4 separate regions of the Homo sapiens genome follow, and regions 2, 3 and 4 are each linked to region 1. The links come from fine-mapping of genetic effects on gene expression. A gene starts in region 1. Each other region holds a variant in brackets. All regions are shown on one strand. Distances are from middle to middle. Region 1 holds the start of PRKG1 (protein kinase cGMP-dependent 1). Region 2 overlaps PRKG1 (protein kinase cGMP-dependent 1). Region 3 has its middle 21 kb from the start of ASAH2. Region 4 overlaps PRKG1 (protein kinase cGMP-dependent 1).

Evidence for each region. PIP is the estimated chance that this variant, and not a neighbour inherited with it, causes the effect.
Region 2: its variant is the best candidate, but not a certain one, in a credible set for the expression of PRKG1 in caudate (GTEx, PIP 0.64).
Region 3: its variant is the best candidate, but not a certain one, in a credible set for the expression of PRKG1 in cerebellar hemisphere (GTEx, PIP 0.55).
Region 4: its variant is the best candidate, but not a certain one, in a credible set for the expression of PRKG1 in cerebral cortex (GTEx, PIP 0.84).

The regions. Positions count from the first base shown.
Region 1 is chr10:51,072,026-51,077,180 of GRCh38, reverse strand. It overlaps PRKG1 (protein kinase cGMP-dependent 1), which reads right to left and starts at 2,694. Exons shown (of 18, transcript NM_006258.4): 1 at 2,280-2,694. The coding sequence starts at 2,590.
Region 2 is chr10:51,160,068-51,165,222 of GRCh38, reverse strand. The region is part of intron 2 of PRKG1 (protein kinase cGMP-dependent 1); the gene reads right to left. Among named protein-coding and RNA genes, the nearest start is that of PRKG1, 88 kb to the right of the region's middle. The variant C/T (reference allele first, on the strand shown) is at 2,186.
Region 3 is chr10:50,269,611-50,274,765 of GRCh38, reverse strand. No RefSeq gene overlaps it. Among named protein-coding and RNA genes, the nearest start is that of ASAH2, 21 kb to the right of the region's middle. The variant T/C (reference allele first, on the strand shown) is at 2,442.
Region 4 is chr10:51,151,992-51,157,146 of GRCh38, reverse strand. PRKG1 (protein kinase cGMP-dependent 1) reads right to left here. Exons shown (of 18, transcript NM_006258.4): 2 at 3,817-3,983. Among named protein-coding and RNA genes, the nearest start is that of PRKG1, 80 kb to the right of the region's middle. The variant C/G (reference allele first, on the strand shown) is at 2,800.

The DNA.
Region 1 (5,155 bases):
GCAGGTTTTCTTAACTCTTTGTGGAGCTACCTTGTACAACCATTCAAACAACATAAGATTTATTCATTTTGCATACAATGTACTTCTTTTTTCCCTAAGAAAGGTACACTTTCTACTACTCAAGCCAATTTTTTTCTAGTTTTCTTTATGTAAGTGTGAAAAAAGAACAGATGTTTTTCCAAAATTATTTAAGCTTGGAAGGCATTCTATCATTTTCCTCAATAAAATACTTCAGAGTCACCCAAAGCATCATGGCAATACCTTAAGAGCTGAGTCCTTTAAAATACAAGTTATTAGTAAGAAATCAGTATCAGGACACACAGTGTTGTTTGATAGATAAAATGTTATTATAATGATAGATAAAATGTTATTATAATGGGATGCTGTAAATTATTTGCCACACCAGCTTTATTTTCCACTCTGGACCTTTTTCGTTTGTTTGTTTTTCAATCTAGATATTCTACAAGTCATGTACAAAGAGGCTTTTAAACTTATCACATTGTATAGCTCATTCCCTACTGCCTAGAATCTTGTAAATCTCTGATGGAATGTGTAACTGGAGTTATCAGCTGGCTTCAACATGCTTCACTATGAAACCTATTAAAGTGGTCTTTTTGTAAAAGCAGAGTTTGCTCTGTGTCACTCAAAAGTCCTGCGGATACAAAAATGAGATCCTATGAAATGTTTAAAGATGCAGAGAGCTGTCTTTGAGTTATTTTTTCATTATGCAAAACTTGGCCCAGGAGAGATGGTCATGTACCTCGTTAGCTAAAACAGTCAGGCATGTCAGGATTGCAAATTAATTTACCAGAGAAAGTTGAAGTTTATTCAGATCACTCAGGTTTCTAAGGCAGATCTAAGTCTGCTGAACTATTAGGGCAATTTGGTAAGGTCAGAATCTCAGAAATGTTTATCCTTATTGTCTCTTTCCAACTCCCTCGCAGAATACAAACTCCTCCCTAAACTAAGCCTGCATGAACAGCAAATGTTCCATGGGAATCAACATGTATAGGTATAACTCTAAGTTTTCAAAAGTAGTAATTGGTACATGCTGTGATTCTCCCCAAAAAACATCCAATAAATACAAATAGAGATAATCAAATATTTACTTTCTCCTTATATTAACTTGTTGTATTTATGAAGTGAAGGGTTTCGATGGACCTTGCATTATTACGTAACACGTGCCATCCAGCCAATGTGATTTCGTTAGTAGTAGAGTAAGCAGCAATATCCTTGGTTTTATCAATTACGTTATTATCTATTAATTTAAAATGCCGTTCTTTTGGGTGCTCTCCCACATTCTGTTAACCTCATGTTCCTGTCGCTTTACTCTCCATATGAACTCTGAGTTGAGTGTTGTATAACAAGTTTCATTAAATTTTTCCCATCCAAGTTATGAAGCCCACTAACATCAGAATTGCACAGTTCCCTAAAAGGCTAGAACAATGCCAGAGTGGTTGCATTAGAAGCCAAGAGTAAGGCAAACAATGGGTCCACGTTTTAAATAAGATAAGTGTGCTTATCTGTATCTGACCCTGGAAACAAGCAACCACCTCTTGGGAGATGGAGATGCTCCATTAGTAACATTATGCACGTTTCTTAAGTAAAATAAGCAATCTTCTCCCTCATATGTTATGAAAAAATATTTCTTCAAAATCAACAGACTAGTCTTCCATTTATGGATTGTAAATGTCATCCAATTCAGGAAATCAAAAATTCTTCCTTTTTCTATGCCTATTTGCTTATGTTTCACACTTTGATGATGACAAGAACGTCAGGTTTGAAGGGTACCAGCGTGAAGCGCCAGCAGGTAGAGAAATCCGGGAGAGCCACAAAAGCATAGAAAGTATGGGTGATCAGACGCATTTCATTTCAAGTCTGATGAGCCTGCATTTAGGATTTTCCAGCTGGGCTGGTTTGCCAGGGCTTTTGGGAGACGGGGGCTTTTTATTTCTTCTCTCACACTCACACACACGGTCGGACACACACCTGGGACGTGTTCAAACTCTACGTACACTAGGTGGCTTATACGAATGTATATGTATATTTAAAAATAATACCTTGACATCTGACAAAGACACGAAGGCAACGTATGTGCAGTGAGTCTGGCTCTGAGAAACGTGCACAGCCCCGCAAGAAGTGCCCGTTAAAATGAAACATTTCTGAGGATGAGGACAGACATGGCAAGCGGGAGGGGCGGGGGCCGACAGACAATACAGAGACCCGCAGCTCCCCATCGCCAGGGCGCCACATGGACCCGGCGCGTCACCCCTGCTTACTGTGGGCTCTTGGGGTAGAAGGGCAGGGTCACATGGCTGAGATCCTGGATGTCGAAGGCGGTGGGCTCGGCGGAGATCGCCTGCCGCTTGGTGCGCGGCTCGCCCTGCAAGGTGCTCGCGCTCTGCTTCTGCGCCTGCTGGGTGGCTGGTCGGATCACCGAGCGGTACTTGTCCAGCTCGTTCTGCAGCTTCTGGATCAGTTCGTCCTTCTGATCCAACTCCAGCTCCAGCTCGTCGATGAGAGCATCCCGCTGCCTCAGCTCCTCGATCTTCTCCTGGAGCGCGTACTGTAAATCCCGCAAGGTGCCCATGCTCCTCCGGGCTGCCGGGGGCTCCTTCCTGCCGCTGCTCCGCGTCTTGAGGCTTCCTCCCCTCTCCGATCAACTTTCCCCAAAGTCGCCGCTGCCTCCCGAGTGCCAAAGCTTCCTACTTGAGACCAAAGCCAGCCCTGGCTTCTGAGCATGCCCAGTCCGCCGGCTCCAGCCACCCAGAGTTTCAGTGCAGATTCCACTTCTCTGGGCTGGCTGTGAGGCTCAGAGCGGGGAGAGCAAACCAGCAGGTCCAACCCGGGATTAAACCTGAGACGCGGTGGGCGCCGCGGCGCGGGGGAGAAGAGTCGGAGGCGCGGTGGCGGGGGAGCGGGAGGAGGGGACGTGAATGGGGGCTCCGAGGCAGCGGCTGGGCTCTCAGAGTCCCTCGCGCCGGGCGCCCAAGGAAGCTTGCGGGGCGTGCGGGGAGCCTGATAAGCCTCCGAGGCGCGCCGGGGGTGTGCGGGTGGAGCGAGGCGGGAGCGCTACTTCGGGGGTGGGGAGGTGGGAGGGAGGGGACAGGGAGGACCCCGGGCAAACTCGGGAGGCCTCAGCTGACTCCAGAGCAGACCAGCCTGGAGAATGTTGAGCTACGATCCTAGCGACGTACGAGGCATAGGGGACTCTGCATCATCAAAGCTCTGAGTTCTGGAGGTATTTTGACGGCCGGCCTCACTAAGGAAAGCTCCCGAGCGGTGTGGCCGAGCTGTCGCTTCTCCCACGCCACCTTTCCCACCCAGAGCGCCTCACACAGGTGGCTAACGCTTGCGAAGAAACTTGCCTCTCAGGAGATGCGAGCGAGTCGGCGCCCGCGAGGAATTCCCCCTTTCAGCCTACTACCTTTGGGAAAGGGTTGTGGGGTAGGGGGTGGGGTTTCCGATTTTAGCACCCGAGGCGTTGCTACTCTTCGCCTGCTCCAGATAGTTACTTTCCTTTCTGCCCCTTCCAAACTCTCATCGGGGAACTGTTTTAGGGCAAAGGCCAAAAACGGATTTGGGCCCTAGCAGGTCACTCAGCTTCCCCATGAGCCCTCCGCCTTGAGCTGGTGCCTGGGAATAGTTCTCGGATGGGCCTTGCTTCTTCCATTTGCTGAATTTGGCGGGGAGAGGGTGGGGGTTAAAAATCATTCCCGAGCTCCAAAAATTTCATCTTGAAACTGAATCATACCTTTAAAAATATTACTTTCCTCACAACCAAGCTGTTAGGAATGTATCTTTCCACTTGAATGGCCAGGAAGACATCCTGACACAAACTTTGAAGAAGAGGGAAAATCGTGAAGGAGCGAGGGAGACCACGCAGGCTGCAGTGAATTGTACACTATACTGCAGTCACCCCCACCTCTACCCACTCCCACCCTCATCCCTGCCCACTCAATATTCCCCAAAATGATCACAATTAGGTAACTTCCTTTCTATCCAAGTGTTACACTCCCATCATGGGAACACATGTTTAGAATCCCCAAATATCTGCCTAATACGTACCTAAATCCCTAATATTTGCTTAAGACATTACGAACTCATCCAATTTTATAGCATCTTTATTGGCAGATTTTTGATTACTATTCTTGGGCACTCAATATTATAATCCTCAATGCTCTATTTGGTTATTCCTTAACACTAAAACAAAGTGGACAGAAAATAAAATTGAATTGCAATGCAATTCTAAACTTAGCAAAGAATAGTATCAAAATAACTTGCACACTGTTGCTTTTGAATACACAACTTTTTGTATTTAAGCTAGAGACAGAGGAAGGGAGGAAAGGAGGGAGGGAGGTCAAGGTATCTTAACAAGCTTGTTCATTTAAAGTGTCCTTGTTTTTAATTAGAGGACTAAATGACAAAATATATAGTCCTAAATATTCTTTTATGTAGATTATGATCTAGTAATTCTCTTAATGCAGATTACACAAGACACTTCATTTTTCTGCTTTCCAACACAGACTTTCAGAAGTGCATTTATTTCTAAATGTGATATATAAAATGGATCATTCTCAAAACATTTTCTTTTGCAATGAAGAAATGAGCAACTTACAAATATTGAAAATAATAATAGCTCTGAATTACTGTTGTTTTAATTAAAAGTAAACCAAGCAGAAGTACTGTGACTTTGTATAACTCACTGTATTCTAAAAAAGCTTCCATGAAAATTTCCTTCTTCTGGGCAAAAGGCCAAATTCTTATTTAACCTGTGGGAATTCTTTATTTCCATGGGAAAATGTTGAATACAAAATGACTTTTTCCTATAGATCTATTATTGGGGTTCATGAAGCCATGAGTTTATGTCTAAAAATATACCAGATACAATGTATAGAGGACATAATTAGACAACTGCTAAGCTGGGTTCAGAATTCCAGGATTTTCTCTTTGTTTTTTTTTTGTTTGTTTGTGTGTTTGTTTTTGAGACGGAGTTTTGCTCTGGTCACCCAGGCTGAAGTGCAGTGGCGCAATCTCAGCTCCCTGCAACCTCCGCCTCCTGGATTCAAGTGATTCTCCTGCCTCAGCCTCCGGAGTAGCTGGGACTACAGGCACCCGCCACCACGCCGGCTAGTTTTTGTATTTTTAGTAGAGA
Region 2 (5,155 bases), 88 kb before region 1:
CTGGCTTGTAGAGTTTCTGCTGAGAGTTCTGCTGTTAGTCTGATGGGCTTCCCTTTGTGGGTAACCCGACCTTTCTCTCTGGCTGCCCTTAACACTTTTTCCTTCATTTCAAGTTTGGTGAATCTGACAATTATGTGTCTTGGAGTTGCTCTTCTCGAGGAGTATCTTTGTGGCGTTCTCTGTATTTCCTGAATCTGAATGTTGGCCTGCCTTGCTAGATTGGGGAAGTTCTCCTGGATACTATCATGCAGAGTGTTTTCCAACTTGGTTCCATTTTCCCCGTCAATTTCAGGTACACCAATCAGACGTAGATTTGGTCTTTTCACATAGTCCCATATTTCTTGGAGGCTTTGTTCGTTTCTTTTTATTCTTTTTTCTCTAAACTTCCCTTCTCACTTCATTTCATTCATTTCATCTTCCATCACTGATACCCTTTCTTCCAGTTGATCACGTCAGCTCCTGAGGCTTCTGCATTCTTCACATAGTTCTCGAGCCTTGGCTTTCAGCTCCATCAGCTCCTTTAAGCACTTCTCTGTATTGGTTATTCTAGTTATACATTCGTCTAAATTTTTTTCAAAGTTTTTAACTTCTTTGCCTTTGGTTTGAATTTCCTCCTGTAGCTCGGAGTAGTTTGATTGTCTGAAGCCTTCTTCTCTCAACTCGTGAAAGTCATTCTCCGTCCAGCTTTGTTCCGTTGCTGGTGAGGAGCTGCGTTCCTTTGGAGGAGGAGAGGCGCTCTGCTTTTTGGAGTTTCCAGTTTTTCTGCTCTGTTTTTTCCCCATCTTTGTGGTTTTATCTACTTTTGGTCTTTGATGATGGTGATGTACAGATGGGTTTTTGGTGTGGATGTCCTTTCTGTTTGTTAGTTTGCCTTCTAACAGACAGGACCCTCAGCTGCAGGTCTGTTGGAGTTTGCTAGCGGTCCACTCCAGACCCTGTTTGCCTGGGTAACAGCAGCGGTGGCTGCAGAACAGCGGATTTTCGTGAACCGTGAATGCTGCTGTCTGATCGTTCCTCTGGAAGTTCTGTCTCAGAGAAGTACCCAGCCATGTGAGGTGTCAGTCTGCCCCTACTGGGGGGTGCCTCCCAGTTAGGCTGCTCGGGGGTCAGGGGTCAGGGACCCACTTCAGGAGGCAGTCTGCCCGTTCTCAGATCTCCAGCTGCATGCTGGGAGAACCACTGCTCTCTTCAAAGCTGTTAGGCAGGGACATTTAAGTCTGCAGAGGTTACTGCTGTCTTTTTGTTTGTCTGTGCCCTGCCCCCAGAAGTGGAGCCTACAGAGGCAGGCAGGCCTCCTTGAGCTGTGGTGGGCTCCACCCAGTTCCAGCTTCCCAGCTGCTTTGTTTACCTAAGCGAGCCTGGGCAATGGCAGGCGCCCCTCCCCCAGCCTCGCTGCGGCCTTGCAGTTTGATCTCAGACTGCTGTGCTAGCAATCAGCGAGACTCCGTGGGCGTAGGACCCTCCCAGCCAGGTGCGAGATATAATCTCCTGGTGCGCCGTTTTTTAAGCCCGTCGGAAAAGCGCAGTATTAGGGTGGGAGTGACCCGATTTTCCAGGTGCCGTCTGTCACCCCTTTCTTTGACTAGGAAAGGGAACTCCCCGACCCCTTGCGCCTCCCGAGTGAGGCAATGCCTCGCCCTGCTTCGGCTCGCACATGGTGCGGGTGCGCGGCACCCACTGTCTTGCGCCCATTGTCTGGCACTCCCTAGTGAGATGAACCCGGTACCTCAGATGGAAATGCAGAAATCACCCGTCTTCTGCGTCGCTCATGCTGGGAGCTGTAGACCGGAGCTGTTCCTATTTGGCCATCTTGGCTGCCCTCCCATATTTGTGAAATGGAAAACCATCTTCATAGGAGTTTGACCACCTTGACCAGATGCTTTTTCTAATAAAGCTTTGCTATTAATAAATGACTAAAGTAATTTAATTAGCTTTTATATTGAAATTGAACAGTGTACAGAGTAACTTAACTGTTCTTGTTCAACTACACAGACCGTGAACAGCAAATAGAAAGTAAATACTCTATTTGTGTTCTGTTTTTCTTTTTGTTTTTGTTTGAGACAGAGTTTCACTCCTGTTGCCCAGACTGGAGTGTAGCGGTGTGATCTCGGCTCACCCCAGCCTCCGCCTCGCGAATTCAAGAGATTCTCCTGCCTCAGCCTCCTGTGTAGCTGGGATTACTATT[C/T]GGGTTTAAAAGCATTTGCAGGTCTGCTTGGTGGATCATTTCTGTAATCCCAAAAGTTTGAGAGCCTGAGGCAAGGGAATCACCTCAGGCCAGAAATTTAAGAACAGCCTGGGTAACATAGTGAGAGCCCATTTCTACAAAAAATCCAAAAAAATAGATGGGTATGGTGTCATGAACCTGTAGTCACAGCTGCTCAAGAGGCAAAGGCAGGAGGATTCTTAAACACAGGAGTTCAAGGTTGCAGTGAGCTATGATCCAGCCACTGAATTCCAGCATGGGAAAGAGTGAGATCCTGTCTCAAAACTAATAAAATAACATTTAAAATAAAATAAAAGCATCTCCTCCTATATATTCTTATGAATAACTTATGGGTGTTTTGTGATACAAGGAAAAAAATCCACTTCAGTAAAGTTGGATGAATTAGACAAATAAAAGATTCTACACAAATCATTAATGTAACTATATACTCAATAATAATTCCTTGGTATTTTAAATACACATAAAGTGTGAATTCTCAGATTGATTTTAATACCATTTTACGTCATCCACCATAATTCTAAATCTCTGTGTACTACTTTTGGAGCCTTAGCACAAAAATATTTTCATTTTATCAGAAAGGAGTTTATAGAAGGGCCTAAATATAAAGATCAGATTAAAACTGCAGCCTTCCAAAGCTACAGTGGTTAAATTCAGATGAAGTAGGTGCAATTACAGCCTGTGTTTCTCAAATGTGGAGACATGGGAGAATTCAAATAAGAACTTCAGAGACCAATTCGGATGTTCTCTGTGGTGGGGGTGGGGTAGGCTGTTGCCATGGTAGCCACACCAGTAAGCTCCCCTGTGCTGGGAAGTGGCTCCTATCTGTCCTGCCCTTGGAGAGTGTGCCAAAACAATTACTAAACATTCAAGGCTTTCTCATTAGAGGGATGGATATTAAAAGCATTAGTCTATCCAGCTCCACAAAGAAATCACTGAAAATCATGTTAAAGTCCCTGAAGAAATATATCTATGTGTTTTTTAAAATGAACACATAACAATTGTAGATTGTGTGAAGTGTTCAGCATGCAAACTCTTCAACAGTTATGTAATGATGGTTGAAGTAAATTTTACCTCATTAGCAAGAAATCAATGTGTTATTACACCATTGCCAAAAAAGTACTAATCCACATTTTTTTCTCACTTTTTACTTTTTCAGCTATGCTGTTTTGTTTCTAATTTTTACCAAAAAAATACACTTTTAAAGTTTCCAATCTGCCATTCTCTCAAAGTGAAGAATGGAGAGATTGATATCTTAGCAAAATGAAAAAGCATAGAAATAAAATAAATAACTGCTTGAAGTAAGAATAAGATGGGAAAAATGTGTACCTTTTTAATGTGACCTACGATTTGCCTTATTAATGTCACATTGATTTTTTGAAAAAAAAGATGGCATTTCAACCATCATCTCAAAACAAGTACAGCAATTTTCAAACTTTTTAGCTTTCAGGAAGCTTCCAAAATAAGAAAAGCCACACTATGCCTCTTCCTAGTGTAATAAACTCATTTCCACCAGTAATACCTTAGAAAAAATTGGAGAACTGTACATTAGTAGAACCACAATGAGATAAGGCTATATTTTTAAACATTTCACAAGGACGTATTAACCAGATGAGTATTAAGAACATTACCCTTCAAAATATGTCACTTTTTCAATAATGATGTTTTAGAGTAAAACACCTGGTCAATTCTTAACTTGTACAACAAATACCATTACTTTCTAATGGTACATATACACACATTCTTATATATTTTAGCCAAAAAAAAAACTGTATTAGTCAGCTTAATCACCTACCTCTATTCATCAAATCTGTCACTAAATGACTTGTGATTATTTCCAAATATAAAATCCACTCTCACAGAAAAAGAAATTGCTGTCATCAAGTATTTTCAAAAGCATATTTACTGTCCCGAAGGACAATTTATAAAGAATTCTTAAAATATATTGAAAAAAGAAAAGCAAAAATGTATGGCTTTTCAAGCCTCCTACTTTGAAAAGGACAATTACTCTTTCGATTATCAATGTAAAGATAATCTAAGCCATGAACCTCACATAACTAAGCTATGAATGTACCTTCATGGACACACACATGCACACACACACAGACACACACACACACACACACGAGCATGAAGAACACTGGTTAAGAGGATTTCTTTAAAAACATACAAAAAGCACAAACCAAGAGGAAGACTGATACATACATGTAACTTCAATAAGGATTAAGTTCCAATGTATGTAAAGCTGTCCCCCCAACAGTAAAAAAGGGAGAGGACAATAACAGACTTTTCATGGAAGAAACACAAATAGTCACAACCTCATTCATACCTAGGGAGATGAAAATTAAGATCACGAGGTACCATTTCCCATCCACCAGATAGGTAAAATTTAAATGTTTGTCAATATAAATTGTCCTGGATATGAGAGACAATCAGAAAACTTAGGCATAAGTTGCAATCAGGTATAATCAGATAAAACCACTTTGGAAAGTAATTTGATATTATTTAACAAATTTGAAGTTTCACATACATTAAGACCCAGGAATTCTACTTCTATCTATATACACTAGAGAAATTACTGAACATGTTTATAAGGATTCACCGTTAACACTGTTTAAACAAGCACAATTTGAGAGAGCAAAATAACAGAAAATTATTCAGGATACCATCAATAGCAGAAAGTATCAATAAATTGGGTTATACAATGGAACATAATATTGAGCAAAAACAAGTGGTAGAAGAATACGTGCAAAATTATTAGATTTATATAAGTAAAAGAATATTCAAAACTAAACACATACATTACATAAGGGAAAGGATTTCCAAGAAGAAATCTTTTGAGGGCTAGGCTCTTATAAGCTAACTTGTAGAGTATTAGTTCACAGATTCACAGACTCAGAGTCTTGGAGTTTGCAGAAGATACAAGAGATATGT
Region 3 (5,155 bases), 800 kb after region 1:
TTAGAGATGGGGTCTCCCCTAAGGAGGAAAAATTTATAAGGAAATCTTTGTAGCTGAAATGAAGAGTACTTGAATACTTTTTAGCTCCTTTACCTTTTCTGAGTTAATGGAAGTAGAAACAAGAAGTTCTCCAAACCCCAATGTGGAAGGTCATTTTTCAAAATCCATCTTCCTAATCTCATATCCATGGAGACAGGGTATGACTGGCACCCCATAGCAGATGAACTCTATGGCTAAGATCACTTTATGTCGTCTCAGAGATTGGGGAAGCCTCTAAGAGCTTTCTTTATAGGAGGCATTCATTCATGTACAGGTCCTTAAAGATTCTTATCCAGTCATGCTAAACCTAAACCAAAGGGATTTTCATTTTAGAAAATGTGAGAACTCTCCATGGATTATATTAATGTATAAGAATTATTCATTAGCACTTGATAAGAGCATCTATACTAAAAAGGTAATTATGAAACAATTGTATTTAATAATTGGGTGAACTTAATATGTACTTCTTGTTTACTTCTCACAATGACCTTAAGAGATGGATACTATTATTAGGCCCATTTTACAGATGAAAGAATGGATCAAAGAGAAATTAAGTGAACCTCATATTAGGGTAGTGCTGGGATTGGAACTCAATAAATCTTAATCCAGAATCCATACTCAAAACCCACAATTATTTATTGCCTCCTTGAAAGGGGAATGACTTGAAATTCAGCTCCCCTCCTCTGAACATAGGCACTCACTTTTGTTGCATGACAAACTATCTCTATCAGGAGGTAGCAGAACAATACATTTCATAATTTGATCAAGTCTTTCACATGTCCTATTATGTCAAAACTCCAGACACAGAGCAAAGGCTGAAAGACGGGGTAGGATGCTGTGGTTTCCACTTGTGCAGCCATGGTCAAGTGTTCAATGCAGGAGCCATTTCTCCTACTCCTCTCTTATGCAGAAAAAAAAACCCAAAATTCTTTTGCATTTACTTTTTCTCCTTTCCAGTTGTTTTTGGTTCTGCCAGGACTCTTGAGTGATAATGTAGTATTTTTAGGGGAAATAAGAAATTGACTTCTCTCCCCTGTGCATTCATTCAATGCTGCTGAGTATCTTGGGGGAAATCCCGTGTTCATGAGATTCATGTTTATGTGTTTATTCTTACAAACTTTAGCCTCAGCCTTCATTCTAATAATCTTAGGCCTGAAGTTTATACTAAAGACTCAAACTCCATCTATATTCTTCTTCCCTTCCTAATCAGTTTGTTTTCTCATTTCTTATTGTAGGTAATGGCTCCATATTCTCTCATAAGCTCAAAAAATTGGAATGATATTTAGTTGCCCCTCCCCTTCACCCCCCCAACATGAAACAAGTGCCAAGTCATACAGACACACTTTGCTAACACTTCTCAAAGTATTCTTCCTTTTCATTTCCACTTCCACTTCCACTTCCAAACGCCGCCCTGGCTCTGCTTCCCACCTAAATGATGTCTCACCTCTTAAAGAGCTGACTGTCTTCAGTCCAAGGGTGTCCATTAGGTTTCAATTGACTTTTTAGCTCCACCCCTTCCCCCGCCATTAGAACACTATGCTGAGAAGAATTTGGAGGATCTGCTTGGGCTTCTCAGAAATAAGTCCCTCGATCAATTCATCATGCCTGTGGTGGTTCAGGGATAGGGAAGAAGCATCCTCTCTTAGACTCTCCCTGCTCTACTTACCCACTTCTGCCAGATGAATATTGGCAAAACGCAGCTCTATTTGTACTGTCCTGCTTAAAAATGTTCAGGGACTCTTAACTGCCTTCACTAACATTAAATCCCTTAGCCTGGCATTTAAGCACCTCCAGGCTCTGTCCGTAACTTATTTCAGGTGCAATCGTCATGGCTCCCCTACAAAAGCCTGCATTAGCAGATCTCAGACTCAGCCTCACAATGGACCATGGGGCGAGAGAGGGTGGGATTATAGTCCGACAGCTGGCAATTGTGCATAACTCCATAGCCTGTCTTAACTCTGGCATAATCAGGGTATGAATGTGGGAGAGTTACATATGAATATCATCTTTCAGGAGGTTAATGTAAAATAAGATTGAGAACTGCTGCCCTCGTCTTAGCCAAGCCACGATGCTTGCGATTCCATATGTTCTGGGTTTTCCCATTCTTGCACTTTGGTGGATGCTCATCTTTTGCCTCACCTCTATAACCCTGCCTGGCAAAATCCTTTTTGTCCTTCAAAGTTCAGTTTGAATTCTACATTTTAATGACAACTTCTGTAATTTTTCAAACTAGATAAGATATATCTTCTTTATGAGTCCCCAGAACATTTTATTTAGGATGCTATGTTTAAGCTTACATTGTATTTATTTTGCAATTATTGTCTTGTATTGGCAAAATAATCTTTTTTTTTTTACGAGAAAGCCATAAAAACAAAACAAACAAACAAACAAAAAACCCAAGA[T/C]TCTCTATTTCACTGGGCTGCATACATGGTAGGTCCTGTATGATCTGACTTCTGACCACGCTTGTCATGCCTTCCCTCAAACCCCTTTGCCTTCTCTGCTCCTGCCATCCTAAACAACTTGGAATGTCCCAAACTCCATGTTCTGTCTCAATTATCTTCAGGTCTTGCGCACATCATGCCTTCTTATCAGGTGAAGTACATTACCAAAATAGCCACAGTCCTTCACCCACCCCTGTGACCACACCTTTCAGTGTGACTTCCCATCACTAGGTGGAGACAATTTCCCCTCCCCTTGAATCTGGGCTGGTTCTGGGACTTGCTTATTTTGGTAACAGGGAATGCAGAGGAAGTTCATTGTGCCAGTTCTGAGCCTCAGCATCAAAAGGCTTGCATGTTTTCACTCATTCTCTTGGAAGCTTGTTCAGCTGCCATGTGAACAAACCTGGGCTAGCCTGCTGGAGAATGAGAGATGATGTGGAGGAGAGACAAGTGGTCCAAGCTGAGGCTATCCCAAACCACAGTCCCCACACAACACCCAACCAACCCAGCAGCTCTCTGTTGGTTGATGGATTAGAAAGTCTCAAGTCAGAGCTATCTAGCCGGGCCCAGCCCAAATTGTTAATGCACAAGATTATGAGATAACACATTGTTGTTATTTTAAACTATTACGTTTTGGGGTGGTTTGTTATGCAGCCAGAGTTGCACTAAGTTAACAGCTACCTTTCTGATCTCCACCTGTCAAAGCTATTTCTGATCCTCTTCAAGTCTGGGTTAGGGTTTCCTCTTACATACCCCAGAGGTACTCACAGTTCAATACTGTAATTACTTGGACATCATCTCTATTTTGACATTTGATTGTAATATTTTTAGGGCAGGAACTTCATCTTATGAATTGTATCCTTTTGTTCTAGCACAGTGTCTGGTACTCCATAGATGCTCGGAAAGTATTTGTGAATGAAAGAATGGATTAAATCAGAGGTTGCAACTTGTGGACAACCTATTTTCATTTTGTCCTGCATAGTGTTGATCTGAAGAGCGATAAACATGTTTGGGTTTCTTTTTTAGGAATTGTTGGCCGACATTTGAAAATCAAGAAATTTGAGATAAACACCTGCATTACTGACTTGTCATTAAAAGAAATGGGAGGATCCGTCAACATTGGGCCTGCATTTTCTCATGGCACCAATGAGTAGTGACAGTTCCCTTTAGATGGGGCACATATTTTCTGACTGTGACAGTCTGGCAGGGGTTCCTATTGTCTCATCCACACCCATTGTTATTGATCATCACATCTGTGCTGTTCTCTTTTTTTTATGTTTAATTTTTTTTTATTATACTTTAAGTTTAAGGATACATGCGCCCAACGTGCAGGTTTGTTACATATGTATACATGTGCCACGTTGGTGTGCTGCACCCAATAACTTGTCATTTAACATTAGGTATATCTCCTAATGCTATCCCTCCCCACCAACCCACAACAGGCCCTGGTGTGTGATATTCCCCTTCCTGTGTCCATGTGTTCTCATTGTTCAATTCCCACCTATGAGTAAGAACATGTGGTGTTTGGTTTTTTGTCCTTGCGATAGTTTGCTGAGAATGATGGTTTCCAGCTTCATCCATGTCCCTACAAAGGACATGAACTCATCATTTTTTATGGCTGCATAGTAGTCCATGGTGTATATGTGCCACATTTTCTTAATCCAGTCTATCATTTTTGGACATTTGGGTTGGTTCCAAGTCTCTGCTATTGTGAATAGTGCCACAATAAACATATGTGTGCGTGTCTCTTTATAGCAGCATGATTTATAATCCTGTGGGTACATACCCAGTAATGGGATTGCTGGGTCAAATGGTATTTCTAGTTCTAGATCCCTGAGGAATTGCCACACTGACTTCCACAATGGTTGAACTAGTTTACAGTCCCACCAACAGTGTAAAAGTGTTCCTATTTCTCCACATCCTCTCCAGCACCTGTTGTTTCCTGACTTTTTAATGATCTCCATTCTAACTGGTGTGAGATGGTATCTCATTGTGGTTTTGATTTGCATTTCTCTGATGGTCAGTGATGATGAGCATTTTTTCATGTGTCTTTTGGCTGCATAAATGTCTTCTTTTGAGAAGTGTCTGTTCATATCCTTCGCCCACTTGTTGATGGGTTTTTTTTTTTCTTGTAAATTTGTTTGTGTTCTTTGTAGATTCTGGATATTAGCCCTTTGTCAGATGAGTAGATTGCAAAAATTTTCTCCCACTCTGTAGGTTGCCTGTTCACTCTGATGGTAGTTTCTCTTGCTGTCCACAAGCTCTTTAGTTTAATTAGATCCCATTTGTCAATTTTGGCTTCTGTTGCCATTGCTTTTGGTGTTTTAGACATGAAGTCCTTGCCCATGCCTATGTCCTGACTGGTATTGCCTAGGTTTTCTTCTAGGGTTTTTACGGTTTTAGGTCTAACATTTAAGTCTTTAATCCATCTTGAATTAATTTTTGTATAAGGTGTAAGGAAGGGATACAGTTTCAGCTTTCTCCATATGGCTAGCCCATTTTCCCAGCACCATTTATTAAATAGGGAATCCTTTCCCCATTTCTTGTTTTTGTCAGATTTGTCAAAGATGAGATAGTTGTAGATATGTGGCATTATTTTTGAGGGCTCTGTTCTGTTCCATTGATCTATATCTCTGTTTTGGTACCAGTACCATGCTGTTTTGGTTACTGTAGCC
Region 4 (5,155 bases), 80 kb before region 1:
TATGAGTATTCTCTTTGTTAAAACCATAAGAACCTCTGGCATTTAGGTATGCAATAACACTTGGAACACTGCCCGGGGTGCAAACAAAAAAAAATATGTAAGGCACATGTTAAGCATTTTATGAAGACCACTTAATTTCACTAAAGAGAGACAGGAAGAATTGGACTGATTTTCCACATAAACTCCCTGGGTCTTTTGCTGAATATCTTGATAGTAAGCAAGCTTGTGGAAGATCCTTTACTGCCTATTCATTCATTATTACCATGGTATACTCTTTATAAATATGAATGTTCACAGATAACAAAGAATCCATCTATAGCAAGAACATTGCTACCTAAATTTTGAGAAGATTGAACTAATGATACAATGAAACATTTCCTCAATTAAAACTTTTTAAAATTTAAATGATCGTTTTTTAAATTTTAAATTATTTTGACATAAGGCTATTAGCACAAGATCTGCTAAAGTTACACTGAGCTGGCTAGAATTACCATTTAGGGAAAGATTGGCATCAGGTTATAAAATTGTAGTCATTTTATTGAGTTTAATTGAAGGCAATCAACAACATTGCAAAAGCTGTGACTCTGAAGGCAGTCAACATCATTGCAAAAGCTGTGACTCTGAATATTGATATATTATTTAGAACCCTGTTTTTAAAAGGATAATTAAGATAACGTGCTGTTTAGTCAATCTAGCAATAAAAGGAAGATAAAGAAAATTTATTAAAATTATCGTGAAGCAATGGGGAAAATATTAGTATACTTACCTGGGGAAGAAATATCACCTATCATGAGTATTTCTTTCTTATTTTGTTACATTCGGGTGTGTGTGTTTGTGTGTGTGTGTGTGCTTGCATCAAATAACTTCGTTTGCTTCCTTCTCTTATCTCCTTATCATGCAGCATAAGATGTATTGACTTTATATCATAGTATTTAAGTATTGTTAACTTCACATCATAGTATTTAAGCTACGGGATATCAATGAGGTGAGTAAACATCACCCAAGAACTTTGTGTCTTCTTTTGGGGAAAGGGTTAGTAAATTTGCAGCTGTACACAGGGTTGTTGAATCATGTTAGGTGGAAGTATGACCTTGTTCTTGTCTTTATTTGAAAATTAAATATGGTTTAAGAAGATATGTATGGGTGCCAAGGTGACAAGGGGTCGATTGACTTGTGATGTTTAATTTTACATGTCAACTTGGATAGGTCACAATACCAGAAAGCTGCTCAAAAATTATTCTACTGTAGACGTTTTGGTGAAGATATTTTAGTAACACCTAAACGAATAGACATTGAGTAAAGCTGATTACCCTCCAATAATGTGGGCGAGCCTCATCCAGTCAGTCAAATAGAAAAAAGTCCCATCTTTCCCCTAGAAAGAGGAAATTCTGTCAGCAGACGGCTTTCAGACTCGAATTGCAGCATCTCTGATCAATGGGCCTTACCCTGTAGATTTTGGACTTGCCAGCCTCCACAATCACATAAACAAATTCCTTAAAATAAATCTCCTTCTCACTGTATATAGACACACACATCCTATTTGTCCTGCTTTTCTGGAGAGTCCTGACTAATACATAGCCCCATAGTTAACAGTTTGAGCTCTGAATCCAAATAGCCTGGGTATAAACCCTGACTCTACTATAAACTAGTTGGGAGACCTGGGCAAATTACTTAACCACATTAAGCTTCAGTCTCCTCATCTACAAAATGGAATAATAAATATTAGCCTTTACCTCACAGTATTGTTTGAGGTTTAAATAAATTTTATATGTAAACAATATTTAGAAAAAGCATGTTCTATGTGTTGGGCATTTTCTAAACATTAACAAATATTAACTATTATTCCCAAGCTTCTTCCAATATAGCTAGAAGACTTTCAGTTAGGCTTAGTAAGAAGGGACAACATGAATAAATTTTAGAAATAATGTCCATGGTTGTTTGGAAATCTACTTTTGTAAGAAATATTTAAGATGAAGGAACATTGAATCCACAGGTGTTCAAAATTGTGGTTTCTTGAATGAAACAGCAATAATTAGCACTGGAAAACAGATGAAGTAAAAGTATACTTTCCTTTATACAATAGCTGTTTTATTAAAAGGTGCTGACCAATATAATATCTGAAAAATAATATCATATGAAGCTATTGATATAATCTCAGAAGTGCTTTAAACGTGGTTTCTAATTGTTAGTAGTTCTTAAGATATTGCCTCTATCTTTATATTCTATACTTGACCTCTATATATTTTTGCCACTTTTCCATCCTTTCTGCTCACTATCCACATATAGCCTTGTCCTATAATTTCATCTCTTTTCTTTGCAATTCTCTGCCAAGTGTACATTATGTGTATTTTTGTTTATTGTGTTTTGTCACCAGAAGAAAGTCTAAATGAATATTTATATTTTTTGGCCTGGGAAGAATTTTATATTGTTGACATAGAAGGTGAAAACTATAAGGGAAAAAAATGATAGAAATTACTACTTAAAAACTGAATGCCTAACATATATCCAAAAAGATGACAAAGAATAAATAAAAGGTGCATGCTGAATGAAGAAAGAATATTTCTTATATACTGTCAAGATTTTAATAGAAATAATACTTATTATTATGTTGTGGTGTTCTATACTTTACATTAAACATTATACAAATTATCTCATTTTATACCAATCGTGTAAAGAAGGCAGAATGCAGGATTTTTCATACGTTGGCTCTAATGACATTTTGGGCCAGATAAATCTTTGTTCTGGGCAGCTACCCTTTTGAGCAGTATGCCTGGCCTTTACCCACTAGAAGTCAGCAGT[C/G]CCCCCAACATCACCCCCTTTGTGACAACCAAAAATGTCTCCAGATATCACCAAATGTCCCCTGGGAGACAGAATCATCATCAGTTGAAAACCACTGGCAGAAAGAAAGAATATCTTCTTTTTTTACAAATTGGTTAGGTGAAACAGAGAAATTAAGTGACTTGCCCAAATACACCACTTCTCTGAATGACCTGTAAGTTTGATAATTATAGGACACTATCACACAAATGTTTTGGATAAAACATTAATCACCACCTAAGAAACTGGTTTTCATGTGTCACCATCTTACATTATAGGTATTTCTGCACTCACTTTCTTCCAAGCTGATTCAGTCATTATCTCAAGCTACTTTCTTCCCACAAAAGAAAAGCATGTCAGTATAGATTTCAGGTCAGAAAGAAGTATTATGAAAAATTAGCTAGGCATAAAACATATTACACAGTGCGTGCCTCAGTTTTTTTCAAAACACTTTCTATATTAGTCTTTACAGGATGTATGAAACAAGCTATCATTCCTATTAATTAGGCAGGTAATATTCCATTCAACCTTTATTGTCTGCCTCTGTCATACACATGAAAAACATTTTCTTTTTACAGAAGCTTCATAGCAGGAAAACTAGTCACATATTAAAAGTTAAGGGGAGAGTTGAAGATGCTTAAATTATCGGCCAAAAATACTTCCAGTGATCTTGAGCTTCTGCTGAAGCTTTGTATGTTTGCTCAGTGACCTGACTGCATGAAGAATATTCAGTGTAATAAACTATATTTCTTTTTTCACATTTTTAACTTTTCCATGTCTGAAAAAATACTGGATTCTCATATTAATACTCTAAATACAAACACTTCCCATAATTAGTTAACCACTTTATCTAAGTAGTGTTTCAACTCTTCTCAAACTAATTTCTCAATAAAAGAAGGAAAAATGGAATTTTCCATGTAATGCATTGCCATCTGTGTGCAGCTGATAAGATGAAAAAAGAATATTTGAATGTCAGAGGATTGGAGTTACAAACCGTACCTTCCATGACATACACCAGTGACCCCACGTCTCCTTCTTTGATGATGCAACTGTCCTTGCCATACTCCACCGGGTACATACAATCCACAATCTCCTGGATCTGCGACAGCTCCAAGTTCTTCATAAAGTCATTGTCAAGGATAGCTTCCTTTATAAGATCCTTGGACCTATGGCAAGAGAGGGAAGATTTACTGGCACATCTGACAAGCTCTTTCATAGTTTGTGAGGTTTAGCAGCGCCATAGAGTGCTCTGGCACACCACAAATGTATTTTCTTGTTAGGAATCCAATAATTTTCTGGAAGACTGGAGAACAAAGTATGTCCATGGCAGCAAAACAAAAAAAAAAAAAAAAAGGCACTAAGAATTTTTTTTAAGTATTCTATCATTTAATGAATAAGTGACCTACCAACCAACCAACCAACAAAATCATACAAGTCCATTTTGCTTTAGACTTTTTCTTAATCACAAAGATTGCTAGAAAACCAATGGATACATACTTTAAAGTTTGTAATTTAGTTTAAGAATAAACATGAATAAAATTTCAACATTCCAGAACAAATACTATTACTACTGTTTATATTTATAAAAGAATATCAGGGATGTATTGTACTATACACAATTATAGAAAAAAATGTTTACTTATTTTTTATGTGCCTCTTCTGCTAGACTTAATGCTCCACATAAGCAGGGATCATTTTAAATTTGTTCTTTATTTTATGCCCAGTGTCTACTAAGATGCCAGTCATCTATAAATAGTATTTAAAAAAATACCAACCTAACAGCTTTATGTGTGAAGACTGGTGAATATAATGTTACCTTCAGTAAATGGTGGGAGATAATACTGCTCAAGTAATATTTTGGATTAAAAAAGAATTGGATTCCTACTTAGCTATTTGAAACAACTGGTAGAAATGCAACAGTTCTTTACACATGTCCCATGCTTTTTAGAGAATATTTCTTTCTTCAAGCAGCTTAGACTGAGGTAACCAGGCAGATACAACTCTATTGAACAAGATGTTTGAAGTGCAACATGTTTTAGGTATGGGATTCAATACAGGTAGTCAGTAGGAAACATATTCATAAATTTTGTAATTGGAATTCAGTGGTTAACGAGAAAGTTTTAGCAGAACTTAAAACATTGGGATATTTATTTGCTGGGATAAGAAGTTCCAAATGACTTTCTAAGAATGCAAAATCAAAGTGGAAGAAATATTAAGAAATATTTTATCAGGAGGAGGACAATCAGAGCACTATCAGAGAAGTCAGAAGCCACATAAGATGAAAGCAAAGAACTTAGCAATCCAGAGAGGAGGCAGCACATTTGGAATGTCATATTAA